Linked DNA regions of Homo sapiens: region 2 is linked to region 1. Evidence: fine-mapped expression QTL. Tissue or cell type: whole blood. Region 1 holds a variant in brackets; the other region holds the start of a gene. All regions are shown on one strand. Distances are between the middles of the regions.

Region 1 (8,100 bases):
TAGAGAGATTAAGTAATTTGCTCAAAGTCAGGCAGTCAGTAAGTGCCAGACCTGGGAATTAAACCCATGTGGGCTGTCCTAGTAATTGCACTAAAAAAAAAAAAAAAAAAAAGCTTTATTGAGATATAGTTCCTATTCCATACAATCCACCTATTGAAAGTATACAATGATTCTGATATATTATGTTTATTTTTTCCAACTGTGATAGATTATATATAACATAAAATTTGCCATTTTAACCACTTTTGTTTTTTGTTTTTGAGACAGAGTTTCGCTCTCGTTGCTCAGGCTGGAGTGCAATGGTGTGATCTCGGCTTACCGTTACCTCCACCTCCCGGGTTCAAGTGATTCTCCTGCCTCAGCCTCCCGAGTAGTAGCTGGGATTACAGGCATGCACCACCATGCCCAGTTAATTTTGTATTTTTTAGTAGAGACAGGGTTTCTCCATGTTGGTCAGGCTGGTCTCGAACTCCCGACCTCAGGTGATCCACCCACCTTGGCCTCCCAAAGTGCTGGGATTACAGGCGTGAGCCACCACACCCGGCCCATTTTAACCACTTTTAAGTGTACAATTCGGTGGTTTTAATCACATTTACAATGTTGTCCAACCATTACCCCTTTCTAAAACTTTTCTTATCACCTCAAACAGAAACTGTAACCATTAATAACTCCCGATTCTCCCCTCCCCACAGCCCCCGATAAGTCCCATATCCTCTCTGTCTCTCAGAACTTGCCTGTTCTAGAACCTCGTATCAGTGAAATCATACAGCGTTTGTCCTTTTGTGCCTGGCTTATTTCACTTAGCATGATGTCTTCAAGGCTCATCCATGTTGCAGCACGTATCAGAATTTCCTTTCTTTTTAAGGCAGAATACTATTTTGTTTATCCATTCAGTCCTTCACTGATAGACGCCTGGGTTGTTTCCACCTTTTGTCTGTTGTGAAGAATGCTGCTGTGTACATGGGTCTGCAAATGTCCATTCAAGTCCCTGCATTCCGTCCTTTGATACTTCCGACCTCAGGTGATCCGCCTGCCTCAGCCTCCCAAAGTGTTGGGATTACAGGCGTGAGACACCGCGCCCAGCCAGAAAAATTTTAAAGTCTTCTCCTTGCACAGCTGAACTTGTGAACCGAGATTCCTACCCATGATACAATGATGGAGCACTTTCTTTGGGCCAGGCGGGGCCTAATGAGGCTTGTGAACCCGGGGCCTCTGCTCTGAGGCTGGAGATGCTAAGATCTCTGGTGGACACTGCTTGCCTCAGGCACCGAGTAGAAAGCAATTGTGCTCTTTCCCACTCTGTCATACTGCTTCCTATAGCATGCAGGTCACTGTGTGACTCACTGACAGTGTGGTAAGGAGGTGGAGGGTGGCTGTGTGCCAGGCACAGAACTGGGCTCTGAAATGCCTGGTCTTCCTTACACCCCAGCCACTCCTCTCAGCACTCTCTCCATGTTGCTCAGCTTCTGGAGGCCACCAGTGAGGAAGCTGGGGCTTGACTTCAAGCCCATCTGACTCTAAAGCCAGTACCAGGGAGGGTGATCATTGCTGGTGGCAGCATCAGGAAGGCTTCCTGGAGGAGGGGGTTAGTTGTGCCTTGAGGGGCTCAGTACAGCCTTAACCATGGTGAGTGTGCTGGTTGGGTTTGCTGAACTTTGTTTGCAGTGATGCTCTCTGTAAGCAGTAGATGAAGCTCCAAGTCCTGGCTTCATCCCACGCCACGCAGACCCTAGCTTCTGCTCACCAACCGGGGCCCCTCTCTCACCAGGTGTGCGGAGATGATCATCAGCATGGACAGCAGCCAGATCCACAGCAAAGACCCCCGTTACGGAGCCAGCCCCCTCCACTGGGCCAAGAACGCAGAGGTGAGTGGATCCTGAGGTGGGTGGGTGGGGCAGGGGGCCGGGCCCCGCAGGTCCTCAGGGCCCTCAGGAAGCAGGTTCCCGAGAGGACCCTGAGGCTAGCACTTGGGGGCTGACCTTGCAGTGGGTGTGCAGGCAGAGAAGTCCATGAAGAGCTGGGATCCTGGCAGGGCTCTGCTGCTCTCTGGCTGGGCGGGGGGATCCGCCCTGTGCCTCAGTTTCCTCATCCATGAATTCTGCTTTGGCGATGTGATGAAGTCAGCAAGGCAGTGTGTGACAAAACTCGGCACAAATTGTAAAGTGCTTCCCAAATAGAAGGTGGCGTGATGATGATTGTATTATTAGTCAGGATTCTCTAGAGGGCCAGAACTAACAGGAGATATATATATAGAGAGAGAGGGGGGTTTATTTTTTTATTTTATTTTTTTTGAGACGGAGTCTCGCTCTGTCGCCCAGGCTGGAGTGCAGTGGCACAATCTTGGCTCACTGCAAGCTCTGCCTCCCAGGTTCATGCCATTCTCCTGCCTCAGCCTCCTGAGTAGCTGGGACTACAGGCGCCCGCCACCACACCCGGCTAATTTTTTTGTATTTTTAGTAGAGACGAGGTTTCACCGTGTTAGCCAGGATGGTCTCGATCTCCTGACCTCGTGATCTGCCTGCCTTGGCCTCCCAAAGTGCTGGGATTATAGGCGTGAGCCACCGTGCCTGGCCTAAAGGGGGATTTATTAAGGAGCATTAACTCACACGATCACAAGGTCCCACAATAGGCCATCGCAAGCTGAGGAGCAAGGAAGCCAGTCCAAGTCCCAGAGCTGAAGGACTTGGAGTCTGATGTTTGAGGGCAGGAAGCATCCAGCACGGGAGAAAGATGTAGGCTGGGAGGCTAAGCCAGTCTAGCCTTTTCACATTTTTTTCTGCCTGCTTTATATTCTGGCCGTGCTGGCAGCTGATTAGATGGTGCCCACCCAGATTAAGGGTAGGTCTGCCTTCCCCTACTGACTCAAATGTTAATCTCCGTTAGCAGCACCCTCTCAGACACACCCAGGGTCAATACTTTACATCCTTCAATCCAATCAAGTTGACACTCATTATTAACCATCAAGATGATGATGATGATGATGGATGATGATGGTGGTGGTGGTGGTGCTGGGCCTAGCTGCACACACAGGGAGCCTGGCTGGGCATCTCCTCTGAGTTCTTCCCCTAAGCTAAGCTCTGTCCTCCTGGGAGGATGGAGGCCTCTGGTCTCATCACCAGGAAGCACAGCTTGACAGAGAATGGGATGCCCCAGAGTTCATGGCCTACTTCTCAATGTGATGGGCCAGGAGGGAGGGCACTGCCAGCCTCAGGGTACCTCTGCATTCCAGGAGCCGGACACCGAGTCAGGCCCTTCCGTGTAGGTTTGGTCACTCATTGTCATCACATGCTGTGAGGTGGGGACTTGCATTCCCATCTTCACAGAAGCCCTGAAGTGCACATGGCTACAGTGACCCATCC[A/C]AGCGCAGGCAGCTGGGATGAGTGAAGCTGGGCTTTGGGCTCAGGTCTGTGACTCCAAAGCCAGGCTCCCCTCCCTGTTCCCAAGGCTCTGCCAGGGATGTGCATTGCCAAGGCCCAGTGAGAGGTGATACCTTTGCAGGGTTCCAGGGAGGGATGCAGGGAGCGGGGTGCTTCAGGACAGGCCCCAGAGGAGCCTTTGCAAGGAGAGTGGGTTCTGTTGGCACTAGGAAAGGACCAGAAGCCTCTTAAAACAGTCAGCACATCTTTGGCTTTTTGTCCCTAGTCTTGGGATGCTGATGGGATGGGAGGCAGTCTAGGCCCCCCTAGAACTGGGGCCTGCCCCTGGAATCCTCTTGCTAGCGCTTTCCAACATCCCAGTACCTGTAGGCCTCTCAGAGCAGAAGTGGCAGTGCCCACGTGTCCCGGGGTGCGGCAGCTCCCCGAGTGCCTGTGCTAACTCAGCCTGACCGTCTCCCGCAGATGGCCCGCATGCTGCTGAAACGGGGCTGCAACGTGAACAGCACCAGCTCCGCGGGGAACACGGCCCTGCACGTGGCGGTGATGCGCAACCGCTTCGACTGTGCCATAGTGCTGCTGACCCACGGGGCCAACGCGGATGCCCGCGGAGAGCACGGCAACACCCCGCTGCACCTGGCCATGTCGGTGAGCCCAGGACCGCGTGTCCTGCCCTGTGGGGCCCCGGTGGGAATGCAGGAGGGCTGTCCGGACTGGAGCCCTCCTCCCCACTGTCTCCCTCCTATCGTCAGCTGCTCCAAATCATCTTCCCACCCAAAGCTCAGTTCAGACCCTGACTCCTCCCTCAGGAAGCCTTCCAAGTCCCCCTCTCAGCCCAAAATAACACCACCTCCTGTGTGCTGTGGTACCTTTTCCACCTGTGCCCCCATTTGGCACTTGCATGGCACGAGAGGGAAAAATGACAGCTCTGGCCATAGACTGGCCCTGAGCAAGCCATGTCACCTGTCAGCCTCGATTTCCTCATCTGGAAAATGGTGGTGTCAATACTTATCTGGAAGAGTTGTGGAAAAGTTATGGTGGACACTTGGTCACCCTCTACAGAATGTCTAAGTGACACACGCAGTACCTGGCCCGAGTGAGCATCCTGCTTCCCTTCACTGGTCCGCGTGTTGCTCTCATCTTCCCTGGGAGGCTGTAAGATCCTGGCAGGCAAAGCCTGAGTGTGCAGCCCAGCAGCCTGTGGCAGGTGCCAGGCATATTCGTTGGTTTATTATAGAACACAGTTCCTGCCCTCAAAGCCCTTACTGTCTGGTTACACATCTAGAGTATGAACATATTAAACCTAGCAGAGGAGGACGTTACTGTGTTACAGACATATGTGTGTGCATGTATTCTTTTTTTTCGAGATGGAGTCTCGCACTGTCGCCCAGGCTGGAGTGCAGTGGCGCGATCTCGGCTCACCACAACCTCCGCCTCCCAGGTTCAAGCGATTCTCCTGCCTCAGCCTCCCAAGTAGCTGGGACTGCAGGCACGTGCCACCATGCCCAGCTAATTTTTGTATTTTTAGTAGAGACGGGGTTTCACCACGTTGGCCAGGCTGGTCTCGAACTCCTGTGTTGGCCAGGCTGGTCTCAAACTCCTGACCTCATGATCCACCCGCCTTGGCACCCCAAAGTGCTGGGATTACAGGCGTGAGCCACCGCGCCCCACCGTGTGCACGTTTTCTATAGCAATACCGTATGTACAGAAGTCTGTTTACTGAGTCTCAGTGACAGAACATGAGAGACCCCCGGGACTCTAAAAGCTGATTCAGGACACATTCAGAGACATCCTGTTTTATACCAAAGGTCAAAACTTGGAAGAGATGTTGTTGCCCAAAAGGCTGAAACTATAAATAGTTTCATTTTTGAAACTGTGGACATTTTTAGCACTGGGTGGGCCCTTGGAATGATCTAACTCAGCAGTTCTCAAGTTTTTTGGCCTATTTGATCCCTTTATACTCTGAAAAATTATTGAGGATCACAAAGATTTTTTAATCATCTGGATTTTCTTTATCTATATTTACCATTTTAGAAATTTAAAGTGTGAAAATTTCAAAATATTAATTCATTTAAAAATAACAATAATAAATATATATGCCTACTATGTACCCACAAAAATTAAAATTAAAAATTTTTTAAAAAACTTAAAAAATAACTGGCCAGCTGCAGTGGCTCGTGTACACCAGCACTTTGGGAGGCCAAGATGGTCAGATCACCTGAGGCCAGGAGTTCGAGACCAGCCTGGCCAACATGGCGAAAGCCCATCTCTACTAAAAATGCAAAATTAGCTGGGTGTGAGACCTCTGAAAGGGTATCACGTGTTCACAGGGGTCCCCAGGTCTTACTTTAAGAACTGCTGATAGACTTTGGTCATCTTCATCCCATCTTCACAGTTTTTGGCATATTCATCAACCACCTTTACAATTATGTACTTAATCACCTCTTCAAATTGGCTTACTTTTATTTATTTATTTTGAGACAGAGTTTCGCTTTTGTTGCCCAGGCTGGAGTGCAATGGCACGATCTTGGCTCACCGCAACCTCTGCCTCCTGGGTTCAAGCGATTCTCCTGCCTCAGCTTCCCGAGTAGCTGGGATTACGTTCATGCGCCACCACACCTGGCTAATTTTGTATTTTTAGTAGAGACGGGGTTTCTCCATGTTGGTCAGGCTGGTCTTGAACTCCTGACCTCAGGTGTTCCACCTGCCTCAGCCTCCCAAACTGCTGGGATTACAAGCGTGAGCCACCGTGCCCGGCCTGGCTTACTTTTAAACTGACTTAAATTTATTTTGAGAGAAATGTTGCATCACTACCATAAATGGCCATCCATCCATCCAGTGCCAACCATAAAAGGTAACCAATGCAGGGCGCGGTGGCTCACGCCTGTAATCCCAGCATTTTGGGAGGCCGAGGTGGGCGAATCACGAGGTCAGGAGTTCAAGACCAGCCTGGCCAACATGGTGAAACCCTGTCTCTACTAAAAATACAAAAAATTAGCTGGGCGTAGTGGTGGGCACCTGTAATACCAGCTACTCTGGAGGCTGAGGCAGGAGAATTGCTTGAACTCGGTAGGTAGAGGTTGCAGTGAGCTGAGATCACGCCACTGCACTCCAGCCTGGGTGACAGAGTGAGACTCCGTCTCAAAAAAAACAAAACAAAACAGTAACAACAACAAAAAATCACAGTTAATGCTGAAAACACACACATATCTGTAGCCATAGAAGTCCTAATAGAATGTGAAGAACTGTTTGGAAAACCCCATTCTAGACCCACAGCTTCATTCTCTAGGCAGGGAAATCGGGTCCCAAGAAGAGGAAGGTGACAAGGCCAGAGCCCACAGTTCCAGGTGGCCAGTGTGTCCTCTGAAACCATGCCATGCTCTGCGCCCCTGCCCGGCCTCCAGGTGTGGAAATGTGTGACGTTCTTCGTGGGGACACTCCCCCGAAGGCTGCCATTAGGGGCACGTGTGTTCGGTTACCCCTCAGGGATGACACCCTGGACTGGGTGGGCAAGATGGCCTTCCCTGCCCTCACCCACCCTCTCCTTGCTACTCCTGAAAGCCATCAGCAGCTGACCTACTGTGTCCCCATGGCTCCTGGGTCGGGGTCACAGATGCACTGCATCTTTGGAGGCGGAGCTGGCAGAGCAGGGGCGAGTCACTTCTAGTTTCTGCCTGGGTTCTTACACCCTCCCCTGTGGGTGCTTTTAAGCCTGTTTGTCAGGTCCCCAGCCATCAAATGGCAGACTTTGGACTACCAGATTGACTTGGGTGGGGGTGAGGAGGGTTCCAGTGTCTCCCCGTGCTGAGGAGAGGCCCGCTGGGTGAGTTGACAGGTTGGGGCTGGCAGCCAGGGGCCCCTTTGTTCTTCACTTCCCCGGCAGTTGCACGTCTTATCCTCTCTCCATCTCCAACAGAAAGACAACGTGGAGATGATCAAGGCCCTCATCGTGTTCGGAGCAGAAGTGGACACCCCGAATGACTTTGGGGAGACTCCTACATTCCTAGCCTCCAAAATCGGCAGACGTATGTGCTCTGCACTCTGGGGCTGGAGTGGGGTGAGGGTTGGGTGGATACAGGGACCGAGGAGGAGGGAAGTCCCAGGCATCAGGTGCCAGCATCCTGTGCTGACCCGCCCTGCTCAGAGCTGCCAGGAGCACCTCGTACTCAGAGAGGGGGCTTCCTTACCCAAGCACAAGGGCCCTGAGCAGTAGATGCAGGCCCACCACGGGGCTTGCTATACCAGCATCCTCTCCCGTGCAGCGCCCCCCACCTCAGGGAGCTAAGATTCCCAGCAGGGGTGGGGACAGGAGAGCCAGCAGCAGCCTTCTTTCCCCACCGTTGGGGAATTCACTGATGGAACCACTGGCTAGAATGACCAAGGGTGCATGCACTACACTGCACGAGCTCTGGGCATGCCTGTGTGGGCAGAGTGCATGGCCATGTGCTGCACGCTCGCACAGTGAGCCTTAGCTTCAGAGCTGGACAGAGCAGATCCTCCTCACCAGAGGCCTGGAGCCCGCTCTGGAGGGTTTCAGCAGCTGTGGGGGTCACTGTGGGCAGGTACCTGATGGCAGCAGTGTGTGTGTGCCAGTGCACACGTGTGTGTCTGCATGCACCGCATCTATGACCTCCTTTTCAGCAATCCCATCCATCAAATGGAGTAGGTGCCCCCTGGCTGGCTCATTAGTCCCTTTGGAACCCTGAACTATCACTTAGCATTTTTG
Region 2 (8,100 bases), 49 kb before region 1:
TGGGATTACACGTGCACCAAGAACACTGCCTGGCACATAATGAGTGCTCCTAGAGTTTGGAGAGAGAAAAGACAAGACAGGTGCTGATTCTGGTTCTGCCTCTCGTTGACACTGGCAACTGGCACTGCCTCTCATTGGCAACTCTGGGGATAATTTTCCCTTGTGGAACCTCATTCTCTTCATCTACAAAGTGGGGATGGCAGTACTATATCACAGGGCTGTTGCAAGGATAAAAAAGTAAGAAGTCGGCTGGGGGTGGTGGCTCACACCTGTAATCCCAGCACTTTGGGAGACTGAGGCGGGTGGATCCCCTGAGGTCAGGAGTTTGAGACCAGCCTGGCCAACTTGGTGAAACCTCGTTTCTATTAGAAATACAAAAATTAGCCAGGCGTGGTAGTGCACGCCTGTAATTCCAGCTACTCGGGAGGCTGAGGCAGGAGAATCAGTTAGAACCTGGGAGGTGGAGGTTGCCGTGAGCCAAGATCGCGCCACTGCGCTCCAGCCTGGGTGACAGAGGGAGACTCTGTCTCCAAAAAAAAGTAAAAGGTGTGATATTGCACTGTTAGCATGTTAGTTAGATTTCCATCTAGCTCCTTGAAGGAAAAGATTAGTCTAGTCTGACCCTCTGTGCTCTGGGCTCTTAGAGGGCAGACGCCCTCCCTGATGTATGGGAGGAGCCTAGCACAACACCTCAGGAGAAGTTCTTTTGACTTTAACTGCTAGCAGCTCCATCTGCTAGCACTACAGAACACACTCCCTCGTGCTTACTTGCCCCATCCCTTTACTTGCTCATTCAATGCTACCTAATAATCCCCTCTATTCCATCTTTTGATTTATCTACTCATTAAATGGTTTCCACCAGAAATACCTAGGGAAGGGATACTTAACTTCATCAGGTACTGAGATTCTATTTTGTGAATGTCTTCTGTGGATCTTTGACTGTTTCCAGCAATTGATCCAGCCTCTCTTGGCCTTTTCTGCATTTTATTATTTATTTATTTATTGAGATGGGGTCTTGCTCTGTCGCCTAGGCTGGAGGGCACTGGTGTGATCTCAGCTCACTGCAACCTCCACCTCCTGGGTTCAAGAGATTTTTCTGCCTCAGCCTCCCCAGTAGCTGGGATTACAGTTGCCTGCCACCACGCCTGACTAATTTTTTTGTATTTTTTTGTAGAGACGGGGTTTCACCATGTTGGTCAGAATGGTCTCGAACTCCTGACCTCAGGTAATCCACCCGCCTCAGCCTCCTAAAGTGTTGGGATTATAGGCATGAGCCACCACACCTGGCCCTTGTCTGCATTTTAGATTCACCTGTGTATCTGCATTTCCAAATGTGCTTTGCAAAATCCTGAATGCAAGGGTGGGTGTTTGTTGAAGAATGGGACACCTCATGTTGCCCCTGTGGGTTTTCTCAGGAAGGAAAGATTGCTTGGCAGTGCGTGGAATGCATGGCCTTTTGCAAGCTCCTTGATAACCATCGCTCTAACTTTGCTTGTTTGGGGTGTGGAGGCAAGATATTTTCATTGAGAATTCTGAGTCTTTATCCTTTTCTCTCCACTTCAAGCTGAAACTTTTTTTTTTTTTTTTTTGAGACATGGTCTCGCTCTGTCACCCAGGCTGGAGTGCAGGCGATCTTGGCTCACTGCATCCTTGACCCCCCGGCCTCCCCTGCACAGTAGCTGGGACCAAAGGCATGCAAGACCACACCTGGATAATTTTTGTATTTTTTTTAAAGACGAGGTTTCTCCATGTTGCACAAGCTGGTCTTGAACTCCTGAGCTCAAGTGATCTGCCCACCTCGGCCTCCCAAAGTGTTGGGATTACAGGCGTGAGCCACTGTGCGCAGTCAAGCTGAAACTCTTAAGCAAATTTTAAATCTTACTTTAAGGAACAATTTCCTCACCTGTAAAATGGGGACACGAGGATATGATGGAAGTGAAGTCACTTTGTAACTGGTAAAGCTCTGTACAGATATTAGTTAAGATGGTTAATTTCATTAACCTGTGAAGATTCTTAACTAAACCTTGCGCAAGTTGCATTGGCTGCCCTGTCTAGGCACTAATATCTTTAGACGGACTAAGGAGGAAACACACTTTTTTTTTTTTTGAGACAGAGTCTGGCTCTGTCACCCAGGCTGGAGTACAGTGGCATGATCTTGGCTCACTGCAACCTCTGCCTCCTGGGTTCAAGCAATTCTCCTGCCTCAGCCTCCTGAGCAGCTGGGACTACAGACTATGGCCAGCACACCCAGCTAATTATTTGTATTTTTAGTAGAGATGGGGTTTCACCATGTTGGTCAGGCTGGTCTCAAACTCCTGACCTCAAGTGATCCACCCGCCTCAGCCTCCCAAACTGCTGGGATTATAGGCGTGAGCCACCGCACCCGGCCTACACGCTTCTTTTCACAAGAATGACACCCGCAACTATACTTCCCACGTAAATGGAGAGCAGTCTGGCAGATTCATCTAGACCTAGGGTTGGGTGATTATTAGGGAAAGAAAAGGTCCAACCAAGCCAGTGGGCTGAAGAGAGGACATGACCTGCTCAGTCCGAAGCAGATGTGTGACTAAAGTCTAGTCTCCTGGCTTCTCTGCAAAATACCTCATTATCGGCATTATTAACCCTAACAACTGCCATTTATTGAAATCCCACTATGTGCACGAATGGGGACCAATTTACTTCTAGATATTACAACAATCTTGTATTACTGTGCCCACTTCCTGGATGATGGGTCTGAGGTTCACAGAGATCATTTGCCCAAGTTCCTACTGAAAGTGCTAAGGTATTTCCTGAGACTGGCTCAGGGTGTGTTGCCAGACAACAATGCACACATTTTTAACACAATACTAAACTTAGTATATTATACTTATGTTAAAAATTTCGGAGCCGGGCGTGGTGGCTCACGCCTGTAATCCCAGCACTTCGGGAGGCTGAGGCGGGCAGATCACTTGAGGTCAGGAGTTCGAGACCAGCCTGGCCAACATGGTGAAACCCCGTCTCTACTAAAAATACAAAAAATTAGCTGGGCGTAGTGGCGGGCGCCTGCAATCTCAGCTACGCGGGAGGCTGACGCAGGAGAATCGCTTGAATCCGGGAGGCGGAGGTTGCAGTGAGCGAGATCGTGCCACTGCACTCCAGCATGGTCGACAGAGCGAGACTTGTCTCAAAAAAAAAAAAAAAAAGGACATGTGGTAATTCCCCTAGGGAATTTGGCCTTAGTTGTGAAAAATAAAAAAGCTATAATCAATTTCTGTTCTATCGGAAAAAAATGTATTGGCTGTTTAGCTGAAATTCAAATGTAACTTAACATCCCGTATTTTTTATATGCTACATCTGGCAACCCTGGCTTGAGGCTACCTGGCAAAAATCAAAACAGGTTCCTCCTTGTTATGCCCTATGCCTCTGTTGCCTTTATTTTTATCTTTACGAGCAATCATTAACAGTAACTTCAGACTCCAGGCTCTGGTCGCTTTAGGAGGCGGAAGGCGGACTAGGGTAGGACTCCTGGCCCTCATCAACAGGACTGCCAAGAAGCCGGGCACCTTCTGCCCCGCACAAACATGGCCGCGCCTCGCCGCCGAGGATTGGCTCCCGCCGAAAGCTCGTCCTCCTGGCTAAGGGAGCCCCTTCCATTGGGCAGTTAAAAAAAATGGCGGACCCCGCCTCCCGCCGTCCTCGGGCGCGGGGGCGGAGCCTAGAGGAGGCCTGGGACAGGGCCACCAGTGATTGGCGGAGAGCGGTGGTCAGGCCATCACGTGGCCCGAGGCCCGTTTGTTTGCGGAAGTAGGAGGAAGTAGAAGTGCTGAGTAAGCCGAGGTGAGTGACCTCGCGGGTGGGCGGGGCCTGGGGGTCCGTTCCCCAACTTCCTCGGCGCTCCGGACTCCCAAGTCTCCGCCGGACCCTCCTTTGGATATTCCTCGTGTCTCCGATTCTGAGGCATGTCCTCCATTAACCCTTATGTGACTCCCTGAGTGCCCCCACCTTCCATCTTTTCATCCCCCTGCGTCCCCAATTCCCATCCCGAGACCGCCCGTGTCTCATCTCGAACTTGTGGACCCCAGGGACCCCAGCTTCGACCCTGAGTTTCTCCCCTGAACCCCAGTCTCCTCCGTGTGTCTCCCTCAGTATCCCTAACTTCCCGAGTCAATCCATCTCTTCTCTTTCCCCGACCCTCAGTGCCTCTTTAGGCCCCATTGGCCGTCCTAATTTTCCTTCCTGTGCTCCTCTAAGTGCTCACTTGATTCCCCACTTCACGTCCGTCTCCACCTTTCGTGGTGCCTCTACTCATTTCTCACTCCCTGCTTCTCCTGCCTTTCCTCCCTGCTTTTTTTCCTTGCCTTTCCTCTCTCGCGTGCCTCCAGACCTGCCCCCGACATGCTCCCTCCTTCCCCTCAGCCTGGCCACCCCAGAGTCTCCCACCCCTAATCCTGTGTCCACCTCCTGCTCCCACAGATGACTTGGAAGCTGGTGACAGGGAGCATGTGACCAGGGTGATCATGGGACTGGGTCGGGGCAAGCCTGTGGGTGTGGGACAGGGAGGGCACAGGGCAAGGGGACCTGTGGCCGTATTTTTAATGGGCTACCCACATGACCCCAACGAATACCTCCCCCTAGCTTCTGGGTCTTTCCCTCACCTGCCTCTTACCCGCCCAACAGGATGTCAGGCAGGTTCGGTTTGGCAACGTTGAGGCTGCACCCTTGGGCTGAATGCATTGTTTTTGAATGCATTGTTTTTGTTAGAGTTTCTGCCTGGAGTTTGGAACCTGTTTTCTGTCCAAGTCTCAGTTTCCTCATCTGTGACAGGGGAACTGTACCTCCTGCCCTCGTAAGTCTGCCATGAGGTTCAAAATTTGAATGAGAAAATGTAGAAGGTAAAGCTTTATAACCAGTATGGCCCTGTACAAATACATGATTTTACTGTTGGGTCATAGGCAGAATTGAAAGGAGTGGAAAGGGAAAGGGCTAGAATGAGAAGACAAGGAGAGAAGGATGAGCAGGAGGTCCCTTGTCTTTCAGTGTATCATTTGGCAGTGTTTGTTCATCACCTCTTGTGAGTCAGGCTCTTCTGTATATGTTCTCTTCACCATTCATTCAGTCATCGTTTATCTAACAAATATTTACGGACTGTCTGATGTTCTAGGCTACCCTTGGTGTGGCCAATGATATTCTCACTTCACATGAGAAAAAGAGGGCGCATGAGTTGCTTGAGGTCACACCGATGAGGTTGAAGCTGGAATCTGACACCAGAGCCTGTGTGATTGTCCTGATGTGTAAGGTTTGCTACTGTTTAGGACACTTCTTGTTCCTTCCGTGGATTACTTTCTTGTTACATGAGAGACTCCCCAAAAGGGAGTTTCCCTCTTACTCAGCAGAATGACATCACTAAGAGATACAGAAAGGAGAAATTTAAATACTCTGTGTGTGTGTGTGTGTGTGTGTGTGTGTGTGTGTGTGTGTGTCTGCAGACATCTATTGGGTGTGTGTGCTGGGGGAAGTAGGTAGGCAAGGAGTAAGGGGCCGTAGTGAAGAGTGTGTTACAAACTTCACTTTGTAGAGGGTGGCTCCCTGGGAGAATATGTTCTGTGTCTTTCACAGTGGATTTTGATAGGGTCATGTCTTAAATGCCTCTTCTCGTTTTCGGATGGTGATCTCATCCAGTCTTATTTCTTTAAGTGCCGTCTCTATTCTGTCAGCCCACAAATTTATATCCCCAGTCCAGTCCAGACCTTTCCCTGGAATGACATACTCAAATCTAGTTGCTTACTCAGCACCTCAAACTTAGGCTTTTCAAACTTGAAGTATTTATTTATTGATTTATTTATTTTTTGAGACAGAGTCTCACTCTGTCACCCAGGCTGGAATGCAATGGCACGATCTCGGCTCACTGCAACCTCCACCTCCTGATTCTCCTGCCTCAGCCTCCCAAGTAGCTGGGATTACAAGCATGCGCCATCATGCCCAACTAATTTTTGTATTTTTGTAGAGGCGGGGTTTCACCGTGTTGGCCAGGCTGGTCTCGAACTCCTGATCTCAAGTGATCCACCTGCCTTGGCCTCCCAAAGTGGTGGGATTACAGGTGTGAGCCACCGCGCCAGGCCTCAAACTTAAGAGTTTAGAATTGAGCTCCTGTTAGTTCTGCCCTCCATCCCTGACCCCACTCTTCACCAAAACATGTCCCTCCCACTCTCTTTCTCATCTTAGGACATAGGAGTATTGTTCATTCAGTTGCTCAGGTCAAAGCTGTGAGATTATCTATGATGCCTCTCTGTTTCTTACCCCACACCCAGCCAGAGTGATCTTGTTAAAATGTTGTTTCTTTGCAGTGGCCTCTCCTCTCATGGCACATGCCTGGCCCCCTGTTGCCTCTCTGATGTCACTGGCTTCCTTGCTTTTCCTGGAACTCGCTAAACATGTTCCAGCCCCATGGCCTTTGCACACGCTCTCTTTGCCTAGCTATTCATATGACTTTCATCTCTCTCCATCAGGTATTTATTTAAGATCAATTTCTTGGTGAAGACTTCTCTCCTCACCCAATCTAAAATTTCACTCTCCACCTCAGCACTTCCTATCCCCATTCTCTGGTTTTTCTCCTCAGTAGTTAATTGTCATCTAAAACCTTTGTAAATATTTACCTGTTTATCTTCTTTATTATTAGTAGCTCTGTCTAAAATATAAGTTCCAGGATGTCAGGGATTTTGTGGGGTTTTTTTTGGTTGGTTGGTTGTTTTGGTTTTGAGACAGGGTCTCACTCTGTTGCCCAGGCTGGAGCGCAGTGGTGCGATCTCAGCTCACTGCAGCCTCCGCCTCCTGGGTTTGAGTGATTCTCCCACCTCAGTCTCCCAGGAAGCTGGAATTACAGGTGCACGCCACCACACCCAGCTAATTTTTGTATTTTTTGGTAGAGATGGGGTTTCACTATGTTGGCCAGGCCGGTCTTGAACTCTTGACCTCAAGTGATCCACCCGCCTCGGCCTCCCAAAGTTCTGGGATTACTGGTGTGAGCCACCGCGCCCGGCCTTGTTTTGTTTTAAGACAGGGTCTCACTGTCGCTCAGGCTGGATTGCAGTGGCACAATCACAGCTCACTGCAGCCTCGACCTGCTAGACTTAAGCAATCCCCCCACCTCAGCCACCTTAGTAGCTGGGACTTACAGGCATGAGAGATACCATGCCTGGGTAATTGTTAAGTTTTTGTAGAGGTGAGGTCTCACTATATTACCCAGGCTGGTCTCAAAGTCCTGAGCTTAAGTGATCCTCCTTCCTTGGCCTCCTAAAGTGCTGGGATTACAGGAGTGAACTGCCGTGCCTGACCAGTCTGTTTTGTTTACGATTGTATCCTCAGCGGTTAGAACAATGCCTGCCACAATCCATCTCAGTAAATATTTGTGGAGTGAGTCATAACATGGGCCACACTGTACCGTGCCACCAGCCCAAAGATCTCTTAAAGTCACCCCTGTCTCATGTGCTTGGGAGCTCCAGTGACAGTTTCGGGGCAGTTTGCTTCCAGCTGTGGTCCAGCCAAGCGGAGTGAATGAAAGAGATGCTTTTTCCTTTTGTGAAAGGACGTTTTGCTCTGGCTCACGTGAGCAGCAGTGCATTTTGAGACGAGGGCCTTGGCTTTTGGAATCTAAGAGCCTGTTGAGCAAGCCTCGCTCAGCCACCTTCTTTCAGCTTTCTCCTGAAGGCAGTTTGAGGATTAAGAGCCTGATGCTCTGGATTCCACCTAATTGGGTTCAGATCCTGGCAAACTGTGTAACCTGTGCCCCAGTTTCCTGTGTAATGTGGAGAGACCTGGACCTTTTCTTACAGGTGTTTGGAGGGTTAAATGTGGCAATTCGGCCGGGCGCAGTGGCTCATGCCTGTAACCCCAGCACTTTGGGAGGTGGAGGTGGGCGGATCACCGGAGGTCAGGAGTTCAAGACCAGCCTGGTTAACATGGTGAAACCCCGTTTCTACTAAAAATACAAAAAATTAGCCGAGTGTGGTGGTGCGCGCCTGTAATCCCAGCTAGTCTGGAGACTGAGGCAGGAGAATCGCTTGAACCCGGGAGGCAGAGGTTGCAGTGAGCCAAGATCACGCCATTGCACTCCAGCTTGGGCAA

The links. PIP is the estimated chance that this variant, and not a neighbour inherited with it, causes the effect.
Region 2: it holds the start of PLA2G6, and the variant in region 1 is fine-mapped to the expression of PLA2G6 in whole blood (INTERVAL, PIP 0.91).

Annotation. Positions count from the first base shown.
Region 1 is chr22:38,128,753-38,136,852 of GRCh38, reverse strand. It overlaps PLA2G6 (phospholipase A2 group VI), which reads left to right. Exons shown (of 17, transcript NM_003560.4): 6 at 1,769-1,865; 7 at 3,840-4,022; 8 at 7,291-7,399. Among named protein-coding and RNA genes, the nearest start is that of BAIAP2L2, 22 kb to the right of the region's middle. The variant A/C (reference allele first, on the strand shown) is at 3,360.
Region 2 is chr22:38,177,500-38,185,599 of GRCh38, reverse strand. It overlaps PLA2G6 (phospholipase A2 group VI), which reads left to right and starts at 3,770. Exons shown (of 17, transcript NM_003560.4): 1 at 3,770-3,936. RefSeq lists a cis regulatory region at 690 and enhancers at 618-762, 3,498-3,607, 3,524-3,818, 3,768-4,217, 4,848-4,917 and 1 more.